Regions from separate parts of the Homo sapiens genome. Here regions 2, 3, 4, 5, 6 and 7 are each reported to be linked to region 1. The links are microRNA targets in miRTarBase. Many come from high-throughput screens and were not tested one by one. Region 1 holds a microRNA gene; each other region holds the end of a gene's coding sequence.

The links. The annotated mature microRNA hsa-miR-4673 reads UCCAGGCAGGAGCCGGACUGGA and lies in region 1 at 1,809-1,830, opposite strand. An mRNA with a match to its seed (bases 2 to 7 or 8) in the 3' UTR can be bound and repressed. Matches are read on the target gene's strand: a 7mer-m8 pairs with bases 2 to 8, a 7mer-A1 pairs with bases 2 to 7 and ends in A, and an 8mer does both.
Region 2: the mRNA of ELOB is a reported target of hsa-miR-4673. Seed matches in the 3' UTR shown: 7mer-m8 at 601-607.
Region 3: the mRNA of SH3PXD2B is a reported target of hsa-miR-4673. Seed matches in the 3' UTR shown: 8mer at 736-743, 7mer-A1 at 1,010-1,016, 7mer-A1 at 1,736-1,742 and 7mer-m8 at 3,020-3,026.
Region 4: the mRNA of ARK2C is a reported target of hsa-miR-4673. Seed matches in the 3' UTR shown: 7mer-A1 at 562-568.
Region 5: miRTarBase lists TMEM248 as a target of hsa-miR-4673. Seed matches in the 3' UTR shown: 7mer-A1 at 2,563-2,569, 8mer at 329-336 and 7mer-A1 at 183-189.
Region 6: the mRNA of CFAP73 is a reported target of hsa-miR-4673. Seed matches in the 3' UTR shown: 7mer-m8 at 2,003-2,009.
Region 7: the mRNA of RANGAP1 is a reported target of hsa-miR-4673. Seed matches in the 3' UTR shown: 7mer-A1 at 2,573-2,579, 7mer-m8 at 2,145-2,151 and 7mer-m8 at 1,423-1,429.

Annotation. Positions count from the first base shown.
Region 1 is chr9:136,517,796-136,521,060 of GRCh38, forward strand. It overlaps MIR4673 (microRNA 4673), which reads right to left and starts at 1,831; the gene lies at 1,773-1,831. NOTCH1 (notch receptor 1) reads right to left here. Exons shown (of 34, transcript NM_017617.5): 5 at 1,648-1,770; 6 at 796-1,029; 7 at 342-497; 8 at 1-142. All of the region lies in intron 1 of LOC124902310 (a long non-coding RNA gene), which reads left to right.
Region 2 is chr16:2,769,278-2,772,542 of GRCh38, reverse strand. ELOB (elongin B) reads left to right here. Exons shown (of 4, transcript NM_007108.4): 4 at 441-1,129. The coding sequence ends at 553. SRRM2 (serine/arginine repetitive matrix 2) reads right to left here. Exons shown (of 15, transcript NM_016333.4): 12 at 3,259-3,265; 13 at 2,078-2,191; 14 at 1,826-1,939; 15 at 1,131-1,685. The coding sequence ends at 1,676. Among named protein-coding and RNA genes, the nearest start is that of ELOB, 6.4 kb to the left of the region's middle. RefSeq lists enhancers at 1,859-1,998, 1,422-2,124, 2,125-2,828, 2,829-3,265.
Region 3 is chr5:172,335,498-172,338,762 of GRCh38, reverse strand. It overlaps SH3PXD2B (SH3 and PX domains 2B), which reads left to right. Exons shown (of 13, transcript NM_001017995.3): 13 at 1-3,265. The coding sequence ends at 394. Among named protein-coding and RNA genes, the nearest start is that of UBTD2, 53 kb to the right of the region's middle. RefSeq lists an enhancer at 2,005-2,866.
Region 4 is chr18:46,456,383-46,459,647 of GRCh38, reverse strand. ARK2C (arkadia (RNF111) C-terminal like ring finger ubiquitin ligase 2C) reads right to left here. Exons shown (of 8, transcript NM_152470.3): 8 at 1-3,129. The coding sequence ends at 3,012. Among named protein-coding and RNA genes, the nearest start is that of ARK2C, 120 kb to the right of the region's middle. RefSeq lists an enhancer at 725-1,514.
Region 5 is chr7:66,954,896-66,958,160 of GRCh38, reverse strand. TMEM248 (transmembrane protein 248) reads right to left here. Exons shown (of 7, transcript NM_017994.5): 7 at 1-2,659. The coding sequence ends at 2,639. Among named protein-coding and RNA genes, the nearest start is that of TMEM248, 35 kb to the right of the region's middle.
Region 6 is chr12:113,157,081-113,160,345 of GRCh38, forward strand. CFAP73 (cilia and flagella associated protein 73) reads left to right here. Exons shown (of 8, transcript NM_001144872.3): 7 at 522-610; 8 at 1,621-2,196. The coding sequence ends at 599. DDX54 (DEAD-box helicase 54) reads right to left here. Exons shown (of 20, transcript NM_024072.4): 20 at 93-2,029. The coding sequence ends at 1,797. It overlaps MIR7106 (microRNA 7106), which reads right to left and starts at 2,097; the gene lies at 2,033-2,097.
Region 7 is chr22:41,244,000-41,247,264 of GRCh38, forward strand. It overlaps RANGAP1 (Ran GTPase activating protein 1), which reads right to left. Exons shown (of 16, transcript NM_002883.4): 16 at 780-2,673. The coding sequence ends at 2,604. Among named protein-coding and RNA genes, the nearest start is that of CHADL, 4.7 kb to the left of the region's middle.

The DNA.
Region 1 (3,265 bases):
GTGGCGTCGTTCTGGCACGGGTTCGAGACGCACTCGTTGACGTCGATCTCGCATCGGGGGCCCGTGTAGCCCTGCAGACACTGGCACTCGAAGGAGCCCAGCGTGTTGATGCACTTGCCCGCATGCTCGCAGGGGTTGGCACCTGGCGAGGGCACACGGGTGAGAGGCTGCTCCAGGCACCCTGGCCCCTGCAACACCTCACTGCACACCACCCCCATCGGACTGGCAGGGTCCCATCCCCCATCTAACTGGGCACCCCCTGAAGCCAGAATCGACTTCTCATCGGTTCTGGGGCCAGGCTGCCACCCCCACCTGGCCGCACCCCCTGTGCTGGCACCTACCCAGCGAGCACTCATCCACGTCCTGGCTGCAGGCCGGGCCCGTGTACCCCGAGGGGCAGGTGCAGATGGCCTTGCCATTGACAGGGTTGGTGTCGCAGTTGGAGCCCTCGTTACAGGGGTTGCTGATGCATGCGTCGTTGAGGTGGCACAGCAGACCTGGGCAGGCAGCGGCGGTCAGTGGGCACGGCCCCTGGGCCAGGCATGGCACACCACCCACGGCTGGGGTCCAACCCCACTGACACCCCAGGAGGAGCTGCCCGCCGTGACCCCGTCGGGCATCCCGTGACACTTGGGACGTTCCGGGGGACTCACAGCGACCACCGGCCTCCCTGACCAGAAAGGCCCTTTCAGGTTATCCTGGGTGCAGGAGGGCCACAGTCCCTGGGTGAGGTCACACAGCTCAGGCCTGGCCCATGTGAGCCCCCTGCGCCCACCTGGGCCTCAAGGCACTCACCTGTGCGGCCATGGGGACACTCGCAGTAGAAGGAGGCCACACGGTCATGGCAGGTGGCGCCGTGGAAGCAGGCGGCGCTGGCACAGTCATCAATGTTCTCGCTGCAGTCCTCACCAGTCCAGCCGTTGACACACACGCAGTTGTAGCCACCGTGGGTGTTGTGGCAGGTCCCGCCGTTCTGGCAGGCATTTGGCATCAGCTGGCACTCGTCCACATCCTCGGTACAGTACTGACCTGCAGGGAACAGGAGCTGTCGGCCCCGGGCAGCTGCCACTCCCTGAGCTCCCTGTCCCCTAAGACGCAGGGTGGCAATGCCGCCCCCTCCAGGAAGCCTTCCTGGGCTGACTCCTCCACCCACCGCCAGCCTAAATCACTCCTTCCTCTGCAGGCCCAGCACCATGGAGTCTTGCCTCCTCTTTGTGCTCTGTGGACACTGCTGCGTCGGGGTGCACCTTTGCCCGTCACCCCACCAGAGGGTAATTCCCGAACACAGGGCCTGTCTGTTCATCCAGGCATCCCTGTGACTGGCCCAGGAAGCGTGGCCTGAGTGGGGTGCTGAAGGCCCTCAATGCCAGGACACCCCACTGGGCACAGGGGCTGCCTGGAGCCAGGTTGCAAACGGCCCACACAGACCAACCAGGGCCCTGTCTGTGCTGACCCCCGAGGTGAGGGGCACCAGACCCTGGCCACGGGAAGTGGGGCCCCCATCATGTTGTCCTTCTCGGCCAACCCTAGTCTGCCTGGCCTGGGACAGGGTCTCGGCTGCTCCCCGCTATGCCTGTGAGTGCAGTTTAGTAAGTGGGTAGCAGCCCCGCCCCGGCTACCCCGCCCTGCGGCGACCCGTATACGCGCCTGTCCACTCTGGCGGGCAGCGGCAGTTGTAGGTGTTCACGCCGTCCACACAGGCACCCCCGTTCTTGCAGTTGTTTCCTGGACAATCGTCGATATTTTCCTCACAGTTCTGGCCGGTGAAGCCTGCCGCAAGAGGGGCCGGGTCAGCCTCTTCCCTGAGGTCCAGTCCGGCTCCTGCCTGGACCCCCGACACACTGCTCTGGACACAAGAGCCTGGCCTCCACGGCCCTGCCCTGGGGCCCCCGGGGTCTGTGCCCGTCCCCTGCCTCACTCCAGTGCCCAGAGGGACACGCCCTGCTTGAAAGAATCATTTTGGACAGGACTGGCTAAACAGGGACTCAGGAACACAGGGTTCCAGAAGATTCTGTCACAAAAACCCTTGGGTCTCTTTTAAGAGGTTCCGGCAGCTCCTGCACCTGGGTGCCGCCTGCATGCTCAGAGCTCCCTACAATGTCTCCACAGGGGGGCCGCACACCCCATCTTCAGGGGCTGACACTGGGGCCTGGGCTCTGAGCAGCAGGGGGACATGGGGCCAGCAGGCTGCTGGCTGGGGCAGGGTGGGCCCCTCGCAGCCCCAGGGAAGCTGCAGAGATTCAGATGGCCCATCCTCCCTGGGGCAGAGCTCTGGTGCCCACCTCCTCCTCCCCCTCCTCCTCCACAGGCTGCCAGGGCCCCCTCCCCCGAGGTATGGCCCCACCCAGGCCTCCAAGGCAGCCAGTTAGCTATTAATCCACTCAACTCCCGCTGGTTCAATGATCAACCCAGAAAGGCGCGTTCGGCAACAGCCAAACCTGCAGCCGGTTACTAATTGCCGCCCTCCCGAGATGCCTTTGAACCCCCGTTGCCCTTGGAGCTCCCACCTGCTCGGCCCCTCCCTCTGAGACATTGCCCCACCGCCACCACCCCGTCCGTTCTGTCTGTCTGCTGGACCGGAGCAAAAGCAGGCAGCCAGAGACAACCAAAATCCAAAATGCAAATCAGCTTGGGGAGCACCCAAAACCAGACCCCAGCCCTGGCGCGGTGGCTCACGCCTGGAATCCCGGCACTTTGGGAGGCTGAAGTGGGTGGATCGCTTGCGCCCAGGAGTTCAAGACCAGCCTGGACAACATGGCGAAACCCCGTCTCTACAAAAAAAAATACAAGAAGTAGCAAAGCGTGGTGGCGCCGGCCTGTGGTCCCAAGCTACTTGAGGGGCTGAGGCAGAAGGATCGCTTTAGCCTGGGAGGTCAAGGCTGCAGTGAGCTGAGGGCACGTCACTGTACTCCAGCCTGAGTGACAGAGACCTGTCTCAAAAAAAAAAAAAAAATTCAGAGCCTGGAGCCTGAGTCCCGGTCCCACTCATGTGTGGGGCCCTGCACCCCGGCTCCGAGGCAGATGGGGCCCCTGGCTGGGCCTGCGACCCCAGGGCTGCCCTGCAAAGCACTGGCTGAGGCACACAGTGGGGGAGAGGGCGGGAAGCCAGCGAGAGCCCCGTGGACCCCAGCTGGACCCTCTGCGACGTAGCCTCGGCCAGCGACCCCACGAGGAGACAGTGCTGACGTGCCAGGCAGGCTGTGCGACCCCAAATCCCAGCCAGTTCCCGGGCCTGCAGAGCTCAGGGCCGCCCCCATCTCGGTTC
Region 2 (3,265 bases), not on the chromosome of region 1:
TTTTGTATTTTTAGTAGAGATGGGGTTTCACCGTGCTAGCCAGGATGGTCTTGACCTCCTGACCTCATGATCTGCCCGTCTCGGCCTCCCAAAGTGTGTGAAGGGAACAAGGAGATATATTCTGGGTGAAGGGTGATGCTGGCTGCAGATGGTGAGCCCTCAGACTCACTAGTGGACATGGAAGATGAGGAAAGGGGCCCCAGCATGGTCAGTGGGAAGGGCTGGGGACCTTCAGGTTGGGCCCACAGGGGTAGGAGACATTACCGTGGGGCCACGGGGGTAGCTGGAACAGGGAGGTCAGCGCTGTGGAGACTACAGCCGTGTGGAGGGGCGTTCGCATGGAGATCCCCAAAGCTGCAGATGATCACACGTGAACACCAAGGCCCCAGCTGGGGCAAGAGCTGGAATACCCCCCTGCAGCTCTGCTGCTTCCTCCACAGATGACACCTTTGAGGCCCTGTGCATCGAGCCGTTTTCCAGCCCGCCAGAGCTGCCCGATGTGATGAAGCCCCAGGACTCGGGAAGCAGTGCCAATGAACAAGCCGTGCAGTGAGGACCCCCAAGAGGCCCATTTCCCCCAATAAAAGAGATTTGGGAGTCTGCCTGGTTGCTGCCTCTTTTTCCCGCCCCTCCCTGGGATGGGTCCCACTCCCTGTGGGCTCCTTTTGGGGCTTGTGCTTGGCAGTTCCTGTGCTGTCCTGTCTCCCAGATCCTGAGACCCTGGCTGAGAACTTGGCCCAGCCTGCTGCTTAAAGGCACCATGGGGACCTGGGTTGCCCTGAGACCCAAGCCATTGTTAGCAGCTAGCCAGCCACACCAACCACGCCAGGGGGAGGAAAGGGAAGGACTGGGAGAGACACAAAGACCAGAGCCAGCCTCAGGGACAAGAGATTCCAGTTTTAGGCCTTTCTCCTTCTAAGTGCCCCCCACCCCCATAGCCTGCATGTCCACTCCCAGACGATGGCCAAGAGCAGAAACACAAGCTGGAGCCAGTGTCCTGGTTTGACAGCATGTTCAACGAGGGAACCCCAAGACGGACCCACACAGGTCCACCCACGCTGGGGGCTGTAATCACGGAGGGAAGTGGCTGCCCCCTTAACACACCTTTAATAAACAGTCTACAGACCCAGTTCCTGCATTTCTCATTTTTATTTGACAGAAAAAGTTGCTCTTGCTGTACAGATTTTAAAAAACCAAAATGCCTTTAAGAAACATGAAAAGTTGGGGGGAGGGGTTCACAACCTCATGGGGGACAGTAGGGACCAACTAATTCCAACTCCTGCCCCTTCCTTCCAAGAACACCTTATACAACCTCCAGTCCCAACCACCATCACAATCACCCCTGGGAACTTCTGGATACAAGTGGGGCCATGCCTCCCTGGCCCTGACTCCAGGCTGGGGTATCCTGAACTGTATCCTCCCCTCCCCCAACTCCCATCTGCATTCCCTCCCACCCCAAACCCCCCAGAACACATGAACCAGGAAGAACTCACGGAGATTAACATTTCACAGGAACAAAGAAAAAAAAAAGGGGAGGGAAAGGGAGCCCTCCATCCAAGGGCTGCCAAGGTTCAAAGGAGAGCAGACAAGGACCCTCCCACGGCTCTGCTGGGGAAGAAGGGACACTCCTTGTGGCTCCAGAGCATTGGGTGTGGTGGAATCCCCCAAAGACAATTTATGGAGACCTGCAAGAGAAGATATGGGTCAACAGGGAGTTCCCACCCCAGCCCTCAAGGCCAGTTTCTGGGCCACTCCCAAAATGGGGCCGCCACCCACCACCACAACTGGCTCCCGGAAGGGGGCATCAGCCTTCCAGGACACGCACCTGGAGGAGCGGTGTCTCATGGGCCGAGGGCTAGGTGTCTCCCTCCTGCGCTTGTGGCTGGGGGAGCGGCTGTCCCCACGCTGGCCTCTCCGGGAACCCCGCTCACTGCTGCTGCTGCAACACAGGACAGACATCAGGCCACAGGGTGGCACCACCTCAGGCACCACATAGCCACAACCGCAAAGCTTTCTTCTTTGTAGAAAGCAGTGGCGGCCAGACAGGCTGGGTGCTGACACCTGCAGTTGGCCTTACCTCTGCTGGTCCCGTGGTGAGGGCTGGGGCGAGGGACGGCGACGCTCCACAGGCGAGTAGCTGAGGGACCGAGAGTCCCTGAGGGAGTCTATTGGCTTCCGGGGGCTGCGGGACCTGGGGAACACAGTAGGACCCAATAGCACCACACCCTTTCAAGCACACGGGCCAGCACTCAGGACCACCCGCCCAGGTCCTGACCACCAAACCTCACACCACACAGGGCCAGCCTCAGACCCACCTTTGTCCGCTCACTCACCCATCCGCCCGCACACCATCCACCGAGTGCCCAGTGGGCAGGCACAGGGTGCAGCGGGGGATGCAAAGATAAAGACAGTCCCTGCCCTTGAAGGAGCTCAGTGGTGAAGAAAGGCACGCACGGCCCCGTGTGTGGGAAGCAGGGCTGGATGTGCGTGGCTCTGGGGACCCAAGGGAGGGGGACATGGGGCAAGGCAGGGAAGGGGCAGGGCAGTCTTCTCGAAGGTGCTGTTTTGAGCGGAGTCTTGCAGAACGAGGAGTTCACCAGGCGGACAAGGAAATTCCAGGCAGAAGGAACAGCATGTCCAAAGGCATGGGCTCTCCTTAGACTGCAAGGCGCTGGGTGTGGCTGGAGCACAGGGCATGTGTGGGGGCGGGCAGGAGGAGAACACAGGGCGGGCAAGGCCCGTTGGTGAAGAGCCTCACACGCCACTCCCGCAGAGGTGGGGCTTTGTCCTGCAGGCCACAGGGCGTCCCGAAGGATTTGTGGAGTGGAGGGAAGTAGCCAGATGTGCGTTTTAGAAAGGTCCCTCTGGCTACATGTGGAAGAGAATGGCGTGGAGACGGGGAGACAGGGAGGAGGCTGTGGACAGAGTCGGGAGAAGATGATGGTGGCCAGACCAGAGCCCTGGCAGTAGCAACAGGGAGACAAAGCTAGAACCCTGGGAACAGGCTATGTGTTGAGGGAGGGAGAGGAAGAAACCAAGGACCCCCTGGTCCTGGCCTGAGCGCCGCTGTGGATGGCGCAGCCCTTCGCCAGAACAGGGTGCAACGAGCATGGGGAGAGGAGAGCAAGTGCCTCCTCCCCCACAACCAGATGCCCAAGGCCACGTGAGACACCCAGCGGGGAGCTCACACCCCAGGGCCCCTTCTCTGGACAAGTCACTCCCCCACCCACCTTTCAACTCAGGCAAGACAGCACTCACCTCCGCT
Region 3 (3,265 bases), not on the chromosome of region 1:
ACAGTGTGAAGGCCACGAAAGCAGGGCAGCTCCCACCCCAGGCCGTGCTCTCCTCGTCCCTCCAAAAGCCAAACCTTTTCTCTCCAACTCTTTGGGGGGCCAGGATGACACGCGAGGCAAAGGCAGCCTGGGGCCATGGGGGACCGGCAAGATTGGAGAAAACAGGGAGAAAGCAGCTGCAGCCTCTGTCCCCAATGCCGACGGCCTGAAGGACTCTTTGTATGTGGCCGTGGCCGACTTTGAAGGAGACAAAGACACCAGCAGCTTCCAGGAAGGGACAGTGTTTGAAGTCCGGGAGAAGAACAGCAGTGGCTGGTGGTTCTGCCAGGTCCTGAGCGGAGCCCCTTCCTGGGAAGGGTGGATTCCTTCCAACTATCTCAGAAAGAAGCCGTAGCCGACTCCCTTTCTGCCTAGAGGGCCCGCTGGTCCTTGCTGGCTTTACCCACGTATTTAATACGCCTCTTAATTTATCATTCTCCACGCAGCTTCCAAGGCAGACAGACTCTGGGGTACTGTGACTTCTTGCCTCCCATGGGTGGAGAGTGAGTTTCGGACACCTCGGGCGCCCCTGGGCCTGATCCCTCCTATCACAGCATCACTGGAGGCTCAGAACCCACAGCCTTTGCTTTCTGTCCATGTCAGCATCCCTGCCTTAAGAGAACTCCTCCTGGCCAATGGCATTGCCACCCAGCAGTGGGACCAAGACTCTCCAAGACCTCCAGGACTGGATCCCATTGCCTGGAGAAACTCCAGCAAGGGTCTCTCATGGCTTGGACATGGCACAGTAAGGGGCAGCCAACCCAGTCCATGATGACTTTTGCTCCAACTTCTTCATGTTTCTAAAAGCCCAGTGGCTTTATTCACTCCTCCTAAATTGCCTGCTACCAGAAGGAACTTCATCCTGAAGAAATGCATTCCATTACCAGTTCCAGGGAAAGTGTCCCCTTCCCCAAAGCCTCAGGCCCGTGGGCCTCTGAGGTTCCACTGGATGCGGCTCCCCCAGGAGTGGGCCTGGAGATCCGCTCAGCCGCCCTGCCTCCCACCTTCTATCTTGGGACCGTGGTCAGCCCTGAAGGGTGGTTCCAGCCCCGCGTATGCTGCGCTTTGCTGCTGCAGGCTCCGGTCCCTCCAGGGCTTTTCAATGAGAGTTCCCACCCCAACTTGGAGCATTTCATTTTTGCCTACCTAAAGCAAGAATCTCAAAGTTTGTTTGAATAAGAGGCCCATTCACAAGTCGTGCCCTTGTGAGCACCCCTTTGCTGAGTGCCTCGTGGGTGCCAAACACTGTACTTGGCGCTTTGCATTCATGCTTTGACCCTCACAACCTCCCTTTATAGATGAGGAAATTCACGCTCCATGTGCCCAAGGACACACCAGCCAGGAGGAAGAGGGAAGAGGATTTGAGTCCAGGCCTGCCTGACTTCAGTGCCTGTGCCCTCCCCTCTGTAAAAGACAAACCAGGCAGGGAAGAGATAGAAGCTGGCTAAGTGGTGGCCAAGTGGCTTCATTGTGAGGGGGGTGAGGGGGCATTCGTGGCTGCTCCCACACCCACCATCCCTCCAGCCCACAGCAGCCTATACCAAAGGCTGCCCTGGACTCAACAGCTGCATCTCCATGACAGGAGAATGCCAGGGTCCTGGTGGTTGACACAGAGCCCTGTTCCCTCTTCTAAGCTGTTGCCCCCTGGGGAATAGAGCTTATGGAGCAACGGGAGCTGAGGTGGCCTCGAGGGCCAGCCTGGAGGGCTCTGAGCATAGCATGCAGCGGTCCCATAGGGAGGCAGGTAACCAAGGGCCAGGCAGAGCTGCTTCCTGTGCCTCTCCGGCATTTGTAATGTTTTTTTCTTTTTTCACGCACTGCCAAATCTGTTTTCTCCCTTGAAGAAACCCAGGGCAGATGTGGTCATCTGTCAAACTGAGGTCTGGAGAGGCATGACTAAATCACTGCAGAAGCAAAATCAGGACCCAGCATTTCTAGCTCCCAGCCCAGAGTAAGAGAGCAGAGCAGAACCCCTTCCCATTCTACCCGACCGAGGCAGCCCTGCCCTGCCCTGCCCCGCCCCTCCCCACCCTGCCCTGCCCCAGAGATCTCCAGTTCACAGTGTTCATCAGGCGAGATACTTTTGGACCCACAAAGCCAGTTTTTTGGGGGGATGCTCAGTGTCTACCTGCAGTGCCAAAGTTTTGCTTGAACAGCCCTCTTCTGCCGCGCCTCCCAGCTCCACCCCCTATCACGTGGGTGCTGGCTGCTTCTGCGTGAGGAGCTTCCTCTGATCACCTGTAGCATCTTTAGTGCCTTCGTCCAGTCGGCCTGCAAATCCCATTTCCCAGAGAGGCTTGGGCAGGGCCCACTTGCCACTTGGCCCTGTGCCCAGAGCGTTGGGGGCAGATGGCAGCCAGGGGAAGAAGGGAGGTGGGGAAGGGCCGCCACCGCTTGAGGGTCCCCTCCCTTGAGAGGAGGCCCCATGGCAGTTTTCCTGAGTTCTTGATCCACTTTGGTTTAAACAACTTTTGTGAAGCTATGTGAGATTTGACTGCATTTCAAAAGACAAAACACATGTTTTTTTCTGATTTGCTCTTTGCCTTTCAGCGACGCTTTCAGATACTTTGTGAGTGTCTACTCTGTGCTAGGTGCTGAGTAGACTGGGATGTGTGTGGCTCCATCCCTGGCTGGAAGAGCTTTGAGTCCTGTCTGCTGACTTCACTGAAGGAGTTTCTCTCTTGCTTCATTCCTTCCTCCCGGGGGTCAGCTGGGTAGGAGCAGACTTGCCCTGCCTTCCTCTAGGCAGAAAGTTTTCCTGCAAATGAAAGAATCTGCCATTCTCTTTTGCTATGATGATGATGATTATTCTGACATGACCCGCGGGTACTGAAGCCACAGTCCTCTCTGTTCACTGTTCTCTCCTTGAGTCATATCTATGGCCTGAGGACGTCTGTATCCAGCTCCTTTTCCTACAATGGTAGACACTTCCCCAGGCAGTGGGTGGGTCAGGGTGGCCAGTCACTCTCCTAGCTGTCCTTGCCTGGGGACTTAGATTTACCCCATCCAGGACTGTGGTCGCTATTCTGTGAGCGATTGATGGCGCATATGCAGAACTCCCCTGGAGTCATGGCTCTAGAAAGTGTCCAGGCCCATCGTGACAATGGTGCCAAGCACCGGGCTGGTGACCAGTGCCTAAACACACACGCTCCTTTAATCCTTACGGCAAGCCTGTGAGGCGGATAGGACCAGCCCTGATCTATAGTGAGAAAATTAAGGTTCAGAG
Region 4 (3,265 bases), not on the chromosome of region 1:
CACCCCATCACCTCCTGTCCCCATCTGTGGGGGAAGGAGGAGGGGCTTCAGGGTCTACCCCCAAAGTAAGCAGCTTCCCTCTCCCCTCTGGTGGTCCCCTCCCCAGTCCCTAATATTAGCCTGGGGCAGAGAATTGGGAGGGGGGAGGGGACGAGGGCCCACTGTCTCACCCAGCACGTGTGCCCCCAGCCCAGTCTGAAACAGAGTGTGTGCCCACAGAAAGTCCTTTTCAATAGCTGGGTGGGCGCACAGCTCTGCCGCCTTGAAGATGTGTTGATGTTAGGGAGTGTGAGTGTCAGAAGGAAATTAGCAAGCATCCAATCCAACCTCCTTAGGTTGTAACTGAGGAAACTAAGGCCCAGAGAGACAAAGGGAAGTTTCTAGTGTTGCCCACTTTGTCAGTGAAGAGCCCAGACTGGAACCTGGGACACCAGCTCTAGTTCTATCCTGGCCTCCCCACTGACTCCCTCCCACTTGCCAGCCTTTCAGGCCAGTCTCAGCAGAAAGAATGAAAGACTGAGACTAAGAGAGGAGTGAGCTTCCTAGACCACCCTAGCTACCTCCAGGCCAAAGCCATCTTCCGATGAATTCTTGGTTTTCACCCAGCCATTGGAGAGAATGGGGCAGAAGTCTCAACTTCCTGTGGCTATCAGTAACTAGCTTTCCCCCAAAATCCTGACTCAGATGTACTTTCCCCACTGGTGAGATCTCCAGCCTTTAGCCCTGGAGACATTTTCATACACTGGAGCTACTGAGTTGGACGCTGTGATACTCATTGCTGCTAACCCTGAATCAGGTTATTCACCATTTTTGCAGCATTGGATGTGTCTTGTCTCCTCAGCTAGATTGTGAGCTCCTCAAAGCTATTGTCTCTCCCAGCGCCTGCACCGGTAGGCACTCAATAAAGATTTTATAGAACACCAGGATATTAGTGCTGGGAGAAATCTCCTGCCAGGAGCCACTTCCCCCACTTTCTGCCTGCAGGTGGCCAGAGCAGCTATTCCCGCATGAACCAGTCGTGCTAGAAGCTCTTCCTCAAGCCAAAATCTGCCCGCCTGTTACTTTTACCCATTGGTCCTGGTTTTACCCTTGTAGCAGCAATACAGACTCAAATTTCCTTCACTGTATGGAATTTCTTCAAATATGTGACAAGTATCCTGTCCCCCTTACCCCGGTCTTATTGATACGAGGGCATTGAGACTGGGTTATGAATGGAGGTGAGGGGGAGGCTTACAGAGCAGTGCAAATGAGGGAACAGTGGGGGGTGGGGCACAAAGGAAGGTGGCAGAATTCCAGCTAATCTGGTGTCTTCCACATAGGGAGAAAGAAAGTTGGGTTTGGGTTGGAATTTGGTGGATTTTCCCATCTCCATTCTTCTGTCCTCTTATCTCTCTGCTCCCTTTGGGGTTCAGGAAAATTGTGAGGTGGTGCAGAAAGACATACTGTATCAGGTCTGTGTCTCCCAGCACCCCCATCCCGACACCCCACAAGGTTCTCAGAAGAGAGCATAGAACACGCTGGACAGAGAATATGAATCCTCACAACATCTAGGTGAGGTAGCAGGACCGGAAATGGGGCTGCACTGTTCTCTCTCCCCCCTCAAAGGAGAAGGAAACTGAGGCACAGAGAAAGAAAGGGACTTGCCCAAGGTTATCAAAGAGTCAGAGAAGCAGCCAGAGACCAGGAACACGGGCACTCCCAAACCAAGCTGAGGGGCCTCCCAAACCTAGCTGATGTGACCTCAGAGCCAGGGCCATCTCTGAGGGACTGTGTCAGGACTGGAGACATCCCGGGGGATGCTCAGCTTCCTCCCCAAGGTCTGCGGTATTGACCTCAGCCCTTAGTGCTGGCTGAGAGCACTGTGGCCAAGACCAAGCAGCCATCACCTATGCTGTCTTATCTGCATCATCTGGTTAATTTTTTGCATAGGGAGGCAGTGGCTACGTTGCCTCTTTGTGACAGGCAAGAGCACAGCCTAAAGGAAGGAGTTGGAGTGACCATGGGTCTCTCGGCTCCCAGGAACACATTGGGTACCAGTAGCTGAGGGCCGAGCCCTCCCTGGTTTAGTGTGGAACTGGGGGGATATAGCTGGGGCCATGAAGTTGAGCCCTGGGCCTGGGGAGCCCCGCCTAGATGAACTCTCCCTTCACCTGCTGGAGCTCTGCTGCCTTCCTCACCTCCGCTGAACCCTCAGAGGCCAGGATAAGACCCCATCAGCTCCTTTTCCAGCTCTCCCTCTCCTAGACCCCCTTCCACACTCCGTGCACTGTAAACATGAGAAAAACAAAAGCCAAGGTAAAAACAAAAACAAAAATAAAACGAGAACCCCCCCCTCCCGCCTCCCAAATTGGGTGAAAAACAAAATCCTTTTTCACCGTAAACAGAATTTGGCTTTTTTTTTCTTCCACCTTTGATTCCTTTTTCCTTTTCTCTCATAAAGACGGGAAGATTGGGGCTGTCGTTGGTTCGGTCAGGCACCAAAACAAGAAACTCAATGAGAAATATTTGGTGCGAATTCGGTAATAGCGACATGTCCACCACAAGATGACTAGAGCACCACACACAACATTTTTCTTAAGCTAACATGCTCCGGCTGCCATCCACAGAAATAGCTAGAGACCCCTACATGGTTCCTACGTGGTCGAGAGGTATATATACAATCCTTCAGAGGACAGGATTGAGGGGCCCGTCTGTCAGCTAGTGCCTTCAGGATCCCACCTGGGTTCTCCGCAGCCTGGGCCCCTCCTTCCCGCCCTTGCGCTGGGCACCGCCAGCTCCCTCTCTCCTGCTCAGCCAGGCGGATGGGGACAGTCGCCATTCTGGAGAGGTGGGTCCTCCCCAACCCCCTCCTCTCCCTCGACACCGATACCACCAACTCCTCTTTCCACAAAATGTGCTTGCAGGCTTTTCCTCTACGTCAAATGGCTCAGAAGGCAAAGTTTGGCTGCAAGGGCTATGGCCGTGGGGGGACCTGGTGAAGGAAATGGGGTGTCCACTGGCTAATTCCTCCCTCAGCTGTCGGCTCCCAGTTGTGTCTCAATGTCCACTCGGCAGATGGGGCATTTCTTGCTCATGGCGAGCCACTGGTCCACGCACAGTTGGTGAAAGAGATGCATACAGGGTAGGCGTCTGGAAGAGAGGAGGGAGAGTCAGAGGCCCGGCAAGAGCTGAGGGACACTGAGCGGAGCAGGGACACACACCTAGGACTCCTGGGGAACTGCCCGGCTATGGAGGGAGGCTGTGGCTGAGATGGGAAACCATGAAG
Region 5 (3,265 bases), not on the chromosome of region 1:
CTGGTGCTCCTGCACGGGGCCGCCCTGAACAGCAAGCGCACTCCGTCTGTTGCACACTTCGAATCCTGAGGTCCACCAGCAAACTCTGGCTGAGCATTGAGCCTGGGAAGTGCCCAGATGGTGACAGGTCCCCTGGGCTTCCCGAGACTCGCTGGAGTCTCTTCAGGTCCTAGGCCTCTTCGTCCAGGCCCCCAGGCCTCCTCTCTCCCCTCAGCCTTCCTTTATAAACCTGATTGACTCTGCGTTTCTGTAAGATCTTTAAGAATTACTTGCTTAGGTGAATGTTGGATTTTAAAGTGTGTGTCCTGGCCTTGGGACAAGCCATCTGTCCAGGCATTTTTGGCACTTCCTTTCCTCACATCTAACAGTGTTGCCCCTCCCCTAGCTACAGATTCCAGCCACTCTCTGTCATTAAAACAAGGGTAACTAATATTAGCAACAAGCTGGATTGAACGAACCAGTGAAATTGGCTTTTTCACTGTTTTTCTCCTTTGATACCACTCTGCCAGCTATAAATCTATCCCTATAACTCTGCTTCATTGGGATTTTATTAATTCAATAGCAGCTTAATCTAAAATCTGATGGTCCTAATGATAATGACGTTTCTAGAGCCAAGCCACATGGCTCTTTCTCAATCTTGTCTCTTAAGGGTCTCAAAGTCTCTAAGGAGAAAACTAAATTAACAAGTTAGCCATGCATCGTGTAAGCAACTCGTATCATACATAGAAACTGGATAGACAAGTACGATTACTGCACTTGAAACATACTAAAAGGAAAAAGAAAAATACTAACATATCAAGTTACTATGGTGATTATTTTAACAATCTTCAATAAAAGCACGCAACTGTTTTCTATTCAAAAATGCCTGGGATAAAATGTTCTAGGCCAATGTATTTCAGAATGCAGGAACTAATCCTAATTTAAAACAGACTACAAACCTAGAGTTAAGGAAAGGAAGCACTCATGGTCATGTCCAATGTTTTCATTGCCCTTCTGTTATAACACTGCCTGGGAGAACACAGAAGTTATTAGTGACAATGAGCTATTAAGGCAAAAAGTTATTTTAAAAAAACAGTAAGAATACAAGAAAGGACTGGAAAAGATAATGTATGGTTTTGCTTAAATGAATAAGGATTAGAAAGAAAAAGAAACAGGGACTAGACAATCAAACAAAATGGTGTAAGAGGGCCGAGAGCAGTGGCTGACGCCTGGAATCCCAGGATTTTGGGAGGCCGAGGTGAGAGGATCATTTGAAGCTAGGAGTTCCAGACCAGCCTGGGCAACAGAGGGAGACTCTGTCTCTACAAAAAAATTTTAAAATTAGCCAGGCGCGCTGGCACACGCCTGTAGTCCCAGCTACTCAGGAGGCTAAAGTGGGAGGATTGCTTGAGCCCAGGAGTTGGAGGCTGCACTGAGCTAAGCTCCAGCCTGAGGGACAGAGCAAGACCCTGCCTCCCCCCTCCAAAAAAAAAGAAAAAGAAAAAAAGTTATAAGAAAAATGCTTTCAGTTTTCCCTGATAAATGGCAAATCAGAATTGCATTCCTTCAAATTTTGCAGGCATCGTTTTCGTAATTTTACTGATCTACTAGTTGCCATTTCCTTCTGAAGATATGTTAGTAGCATGAAAATAAAAGCAAAACAAAAGGGAGAAAATCCACCCACTCTTTAAAAAAGAAAGAAGAAATCCTTTCCTATTAGATAGAATCATTATTCTTTCTTTCCATACTGTCATCTGCATTCCAGAAAGCAGAAGAGCAAACAGTCACTCTAACTCTAGAGCCATTTACATTTTGAAGCCCTTTTGAGTGAAGAGGCGCTTTAACTTTGATAACAGAAGGGAGGGACAAGAGTGGACGACAAGACAGTAGAACCTCCTATGCCAGCTCCAACAAGACCAGGTTCCTGGTCATCCATGTGGAAAATGAAACTTAGATCTTTACCATGTATGTGACTTAAATATTTAACTTTTTAGTCAGGATAAAAGCACAAGTCTGTCCTAACTAGAGTAGTATTAAAATGTGACTATTTTATTTTTTCTTCATAAAGGAAAACAAAAAACAAAAAAACAAAAACAAAACAAAAAAAACTTAAGGTATGTTTCCTGCAAGCAAAATGGAGAAAAAGGTATTATTGTTGTTACTATGATTATTAAGCCACAAACACATAAAATCCACAAAATGGATTGGTGGCTTTGGAAATGCAATACCGTATCAAAGGTGCAGACTGTTTCAAATGTTCTCTACATATTGGGCTGAAACAAGAACCAAACCAAACTTCAACCCCATCAGCGACGCAATGCTCCTGTGACCTTGGTGAAAACATCGTCGTGACCAGCTAGATCCAGGAATCCTTCTCTAGAGACACGTGGAAACGTCCCATCAGGTAGGTCCTCAAGTCCAAGGTGGGGTTGAAGGGCTCTGGCTGTACCCAGGGCAAAGCACGTGCATTATTGGACCAATTTCTGAATAGATTTTTATAAATATGTACAAATCAGTTACAGGCACTTGAAATGTCTTTGGCTGGAATAACCCAACATCGCAAGATAATGTATTCACAGAGCATCCAGGCCCAGGCTGGGTTCAGCAGGCAAGGATTATGGTTCTCTCAGTCTCTCTCAAAAAACAAGGAGCTGTGGAATTAGGCTTCAGCCAAAGCCACCTGGAAGACAGCAAGCCAGGGAAACCAGTCAAAAAAGGGAAGCCTAGGTAACTCAGCCCCTACCCAAAGACCAGGATGCCACACTAATTGCACATATCAACCAGACAGTGAAGTTACTAAATCCCTAAAAAGAAAATCTCACCTAGGAAGAAATTACTAGAAATCTCAAAGTCTCCTGCAAGACGCGGCCCATCTGGAACCACTGTGCGGAGACAGAATTAACTGGTTTTTGTTTTTTTGAGACACGGTCTCGCTCTGTTGTCCAGGCTGGAGTGCAGTGGTGCAATCGTAGGTTACTGCAGCTTCCAACTTCTGGGCTCAAGCAATTCTCCTTCCTCAACCTCCCCAGTAGCTGGGAATACAGGCATGCACCATTACATCTGGCTAATTTTTTAACTGTTAGTAGAGAAGGGTTCTCACTATGTTGCCCAGGCTGGTCTTGAACTCGTGGGCTCAAGTGATCCTTCTGCCTCAGCCTCCTAAAAGTCCTGGGATTACAGGTCCACCTAGCTGAGGTAACTGTCTTTAAACCTTGATAAGCATTCTGTTAGAAGACTTCTTATGCTGATGGAACTACAGAGGAGGCAGCTACCCAGAGTCAGTAGT
Region 6 (3,265 bases), not on the chromosome of region 1:
TGGTGGAGATAAAAAGTTTCCTTCTCAGCTGTTGATACGGTGATGAATATGAGGGGGAGCCCACAGATGGTTGTAAGTTCACCCTCAAGTTCTAGTTTTTACAATGGATCCATGGTATTTATTAAGTTCATATTCATAAAGAAGTTAATTAAAACAAAAGGAGAGCCACCCACGGAGATAAGAGTAGGTCACAAACCAATGAATATGACTGATCCAGTTACAAGAAAATAAAGCTGATTGATGTAAATGAAAATACTAATTGGATAGTGCAGGTGACAGCAGCGAGGAAGCTGTGAAGGTGTCTGCTCACGCAGCAGTTGGGAAGGTTGGCCTGAGGCTTTCAAAACCCAGAACGGTTTAGGATCTCAGTCACCACCTCTGGGAACCACCATCATCACTGTTCTTTTAATGAGGGGATCTCCAGTCCCCGCCCTACCTTTCGGCCTCCCCCGCGTGTTGAGGGGTGGGGGCTGGACAGTGACTCTGGGGCTGGGATGTGACTTCGTGCTGGGCCCCCCCAGGTGAAGCTGTTCATGCAGGACCTCTCTGCCATGCTGGCCGGCCTGGGTCAGGCTGAGCCTGCAGCCCCTGCCTCCTAGCCCTGACACAGGTGAGCAGCGGGAGAGGGAACCCCTGAGAGACCCTGAGATAGGAGGGCCCACATTTCCAATGGGGTGTGGACTGAGTGGCTCTTCCTGAATCCGTTTCCTCATTGGGAAGATGGGAGGGCTGTGCCTGTTCAGAGTGCTGTGGGCCTGCCATGAGGGGCACATAGCAAGCACTCCATAAATGCAGGCCCTGATGAGGAGGTGATGGGAAGGTCAAGGGGCTATGTGTGGGGCAACTGCCTCTAAAATGAGATCAGACCAGGCCCTCCCTGCCAGGGTGGTTGGGGCATGAAAAAAAACTCTTTGTCAGGTCTCAGAACAGGGTCCATGCTAGATGAGAGATCACCAAGGCCCCCTCCACTATGGACTCTGCCAGGTGAGGGGCCCAGCCTGAGAATCCAGCTGCTGGGGCTGCCCTTGACCTTCTCAGAACCTCAAACAGGGGGTGGGTGGCAAGAAGACAGAGGACAGGCCAGGTTCTGACCTCCAGGTGTGGAGGGGCCGCGTTAACCTCTTCATAGCCAGAGGGGAGCAGCTGTGTCCTTGCCCCCTGGGCTGGGCATCCTGTTCCCCTCCCCCAGCCCACTCCCAGCTGCAACCATGTCCAGTGGGAGGAAGGGGGACCAACTCCCGCCTCTGGCACCTGGTTTGTGCTCTGAGCTTCACTTTCCTCATCGCTAAATGGACAAGGCAGCAGAACTCACCCTCAGGAGACCCGCAACTCCTCTGCCACGTTAGCTGGGATTTTAGTACCTGGGTCTCTCCATTCCAGTTCCCCAAGTAGACCGCACTCCTGGCCACCAGCAGTGCTCAATAAAGATTTATTACATTAAAAATTCCATTGCCAAACCCTGAGGCACTCAGGGCTCTGACCGGTGCAGCCATGACCTCTGAACCCAGAACACATGGAAGCAGCAGCAGCTGAGTTGCCAACTCAAGTCTTGGCCTGCCTGGCTTTGCTGGCGAACTCCTGCACACCCTTCAAGGCCCTGTTCAAATGTCTCTGTCTTAGGCTGACGCAGCTGCTGCCCTTCTGTGGCCATACAGTGCTCCTTTTCACAGATGATGGCTCCTGCAGGGAGTGCCCCCAGTGCCCAGCACAGGGCCAGGCACACAGTGGTGCACGGGAACGTCTGCTGATGCCCACCCTAAGGCCAATCAAGGAGCCACGGGGCTGGGTCCTGGTCCTCACATCCTCTTCCGCATCTTGCCCTTCTTGGAGCGGGCACCCCGGCCGAAGGCGCCCTGCTGCAGCTCCTGGACGCGGCGGCGGTTGCGGGCAGAGAGCTGCTTGAGGCCACCACGCTGCAGGAAGTGCAGCTTCTGGGCCCGGCGCCGCTGCTTCAGGATCTGCTGCTTGGTCTTGAGTTCCGGGCGGACTCGGCCTGCAGGGGTGCCTGGGGCGTGGGGCCGGGATGCACCTGCTGGGACAGGGATTCAGGGAGCTCAGCTGTTGGGATCACTCCCAAGATCCCCTCCTCCCAGAAGCTTGCAGACTCCTCCCCTGCCCCTACTCCTGTTCTGTGCTTATTGCTGTGGCCCAGTGTCTGTACACAGTAGGTGGCTAATAAAGTTTTAGGCAGCCTCATGGAGTGGTCAATAACACGGGGCCAGAACCGCTGGGGTTCAAATCCCAGCTGTGACCTCTTGGACCGTGGGCAAGAAGTTAACGGCTCTGTGCCTCAGTTTCCCCATCTATGAATTATAAATCACAGCACCTCCCTCATGGGTGAAGAGTAAATGCATTTCCATGGTGTAAAGTGGTCAGAATTTCAAGGCCTGTCCCATAGTGGGAGCCTTTTGGGCATGACTGTTACTATTAAAAATTCTCCAACCAAGGAGTGTATGTCTCCACAGCACACCTACGGCACGCCAGGCTCTGAGGCCCCCCATAGTAACCGATACAGACCTCAGCCTCTGTCTCCATGGACACCATGCTCTAGGCTTGTTAGATGAAAAAAGAGTGTAGATGAACCTTCCTTTAGGTGGGAGAGGAATCAAAGAAGGCCAGAGAGGGAGAGGGACTTATCTGAGATCACACAGCAAAGCAGCAGCAGCAGCAGAGGTCAGCGACCCTGCCCCAGCCCCACAGGTGGGCATCAGGTAGTCCATTCTTCTAGTTCTCCGGGAGGCAAGCACCACCCTCCCTGGCTCCCACTAAGCCCTGTGTCCTCCTCCTCCTCTTCCCCATTCATAACAGCAGCCTCCCCAGGGCTCCTAGAGGGATGACCATTAAGGTGGTCCCAGCTGTCTCCAATGGAGCCAGGGTGCCTCGCAGGACCTATCACCTCCAATGAGGACAGCAAAGGAAGAACAGCTGCTTTTTCCCAAAGCCCACAGGTCGCCCCCGTCTCCCCAGCCCCTGCACGCCCACTGCACGGCAATGCTCGCAGCAGAAGCTGCTGTTTCACCTAGGTAAAAACAGGCTGAGAAGTGAGGTGTGGGTGGTCCCCACCCAGCCATGCTGACAAGGAGACACTCCCACAGATGGGAGAGCTGGAGAGGGAGGAGCCACAGAGAACAGGCCCAGGCAAATGCACGCAGGCTCACAGAGACACCCAGGGGAGGCAGTGACCAGCCCCAGGAGGTGGAGGGACACAAGCAGGGGCTAAGGCCATCTGAGAGAGACCCAAGACATGGTCCCAAACTCCCCTCTC
Region 7 (3,265 bases), not on the chromosome of region 1:
AAACTTGGTACTGTATTTTGTATTTTAGCCATTCTAGTGAGGGCATAAGAGTGTCACACTGTGATTATGTTTCTCTGGGAGGATCACCTGAGCCCGGGGGGTAGAGGCTGCAGTGAGCCGAGATAGAAGCTGGGCAACATGAGACCCTGTTTGAAAAAAATTAAAGTTATCCCCCCCACCCATATATATATACAGAGAGAGTTTAGGCAATTATTTTCTCCCTGTCTGTAAGTTGCCTTTGTACTCCTTAATGAGTATTTTGATAAACAGAAACCTGTTCTCACTGCTACATCATTTCCATTGTGTGAACATCCCACGATAATGGCAAAGGAGGTTAAATACAGCTTAATTTATTCATCTTTTCCTCACTCCTAAGGCCTTGAAGATACTCACTTACACTATCTCCTACAAGCTCTCTCTCTCTTTTTTGAGACAGGGTCTCGCTGTCAGTCATGCTGGAGTGCAGTGGCACGATCACGGCTTGCTGCAGCATCCACTTCTTGGGCTCAGGTGATCCTCCCACCTCAGGTTCCCAAGTAGCTGAGACTACAGGCATGCATCACCACACCCAGCTCATTTTTGTATTTTTAGTAGAGACAGGGTTTTGCCATGTTGGCCAGGCCAGTCTTGAATTCCTGGGCTCAAGTGATCTGCCCGCCTCGTCCTCCCAAAGTGCTAGGATTACTACAGGCGTGAGCCACCACACCCGGGTGAAGCTCTATAGTTTTGCTTAATTTTTAAAACATTAACTGAGGTAAAATATATTAATACATGAAATCTATCATTTTAACCATTTTTATGTGTACAATTCAGTGCATTAAGTACATTCACAATGTTATGCAACCATCACCACTCTCCATTTCCAGAACATCTTCATCATCCCAGAGAATCTGTTTGCAGCCTCACTCCCTATTCCACCCTTCCCCTAGCCCTGGCAACCTCTACCTTCTTGTCTCTGAATTTGCTTATTCTAGATGCCTCATCTAAATGGAATCATATTTGTCCTTTTGTGTCTGGCTTATTTCATTTAACATGTTTTCAAAGTTCATCCACGTTGTAGCTGGCATCAGAACTTAATGCCAGCCCCACACCCACCCCCTACCGTATCAACTCACACAGAAGACAGGGGACAGGGCCAGCAGTATCCTCTGCCACCTGGTCACCTACGTGGCCGACTGCCAATGAGAAAATATTGCCCTCTAAGAAACCTTGGAGGGACTTCTTGGAGGCCGTTTGTGGGGGACATGGGCTCCCAAAGCACATACATGGTGTAGGGTAGGAGGTAAGGAAGGTTGGCTGGGCTGTCCTCACATATGTGGCAGTGGAGCAAAGGATCCCAAGGGAGGTGGCTTCCATAGTGAAGGAGCAACGCAGAAGCCAAGCGAGCTGCAGCCCAAAGGCAGGGTGCTGGGTGAGGTGTGGCCAGGCAGGAAAATGGGCCCCCACTCAGGACTGCCACTTCCCAGGTAGTGGCCTGAGGCCGAGGCCGGGCCCTTCTGCAGGGCTGACTGCCCCACAGACTGCTGCGGGGCCGCATGCTCTGCCGAGGTGGGACTCCACGTACAACGGCCCCCGAGACTATCCCGCTTTCAGTGAGAGTTTCTGAGTCTCTGAAGCTGCCACACGACTTTATTTGTGAAGCCCCCGGGCACAGCCCAGACACACACAGAGCACAAAGGGGAAAGCATGGGGCAGTCACGGGTGCTCAGGGAGGTCATACAGCATCTGCCCAGTCCAGACCCTACCGCTCCCCTGCCCCAGGAGGTCCTTTAAGAGCAGCGTCCAGATGCAGCTCGGACATTGGGGACCCTGCCTCTCCCTCCCCAGACTGGAGAACAGCTTTGGGTTGTCAACACTCCCCCTCCAGCCAGGCCAGTCACAGACGACATCTCAGCAGCCAGGAGAAGGCCCACTAGGTCCGGGGCCAGCGCAGTCCCAGCAGCTCCTGCTCCTGGACAATCTGGTGTCTGCCTGTCCACACGGTGTGGGGCCCAGGGTTGCCCTCTGCCAACAACCCCACGATCCGACCCCCACAGTCCCACCCATGGCATTCTCTGCTCTTCAGGCTGAGCGGTCAGCACAGTGGTATGGATGGTAGGGGTGACAGCTGCCGCAGGACCAGGGCTTGGTGACGAGAAGCAGCCCCAGGCAGGGCAGGAAACAACCCAATCACAACACAGAGGGGAAGGACAGCACGCGGGCAACTCCCTGGGTTCTGGCTCCGCCAGGGAGCCGGGCCGGAAGGCAGGTGGGTGGGGACGGCCATCAGGGCCCAGGCGGAGATCAGCAGAGCGCCCTCAGGTGGAGGTGAGTTTAATGGCGGAGCAGCTCACAGCCCTTTCCCCTGGGGGCCAACTCCCCACAACAGAGCAGGGCTGGGCCAGCAGAAGACGTTAAAACCCAAATCCCGACAGGAGGCACAGACCTGCACATGCGCCACACCCACACACATACTCAGGGGACTGACAGGACACATGGGACACAGACCCGCCCTGCCTGTGGCCAGAGTCCTGTCCAAGGCAATGGCGTAGGCTGCGCCTCAGTTCATCCGAGTCCCTCCCCAGCTCACTGGTCCAGGCCAAGGGATGGGAGAGGCTTTGAGTCTAGACCTTGTACAGCGTCTGCAGCAGACTGTGGCGGGCGAAGGAGCAGGATTCCAGGGCGCTGTTGGGCCTGCGGGGAAAGAGGGGTCAGCAGGTCGGTGGATGCCTCTTGGCCTGTTTTCCAAGTGTGGGGGCCATTTTGGTGCCAGACTCATTTTTGTTAATTTGCACAACGACTCAGCAAGAGAGACATTAGCCCTCTGCCTTCTGCACACCGTGGGTGGGGATGGGAGGTGCGAGAGGCTCAGAGAGCCAGGCACCCAACGCCACACAGCCCAGAGCTGGCCAGAATGAAGGCCCCCTCAGCCAGGCTCTCCAAGGGCCCTTCCAGCAGACATAGGCCAGGGAATCCTTACTGGCTGCCAGTGGCCACATAGGACTGGCCCACTAGAGTCCAATCTGGATCATAAGTAAATGGCTAGCCATTGTTTTTTTGGTTGCTTTTTTTCTTTTTCTTTTTCTTTTTTTTTTGAGACGGAGTCTCGCTCTGTCACCCAGGCTGGAGTGCAGTGGTGCGATCTCGGCTCACTGCAAGCTCCGCCTCCCGAGTTCACGCCATTCTCCTGCCTCAGCCTCCCGAGTAGCTGGGACTACAGACGCCCACCACCATGCCCAGCTAATTTTTTGTATTTTTAGTAGAGACAGGGTTTCACCATGTTAGC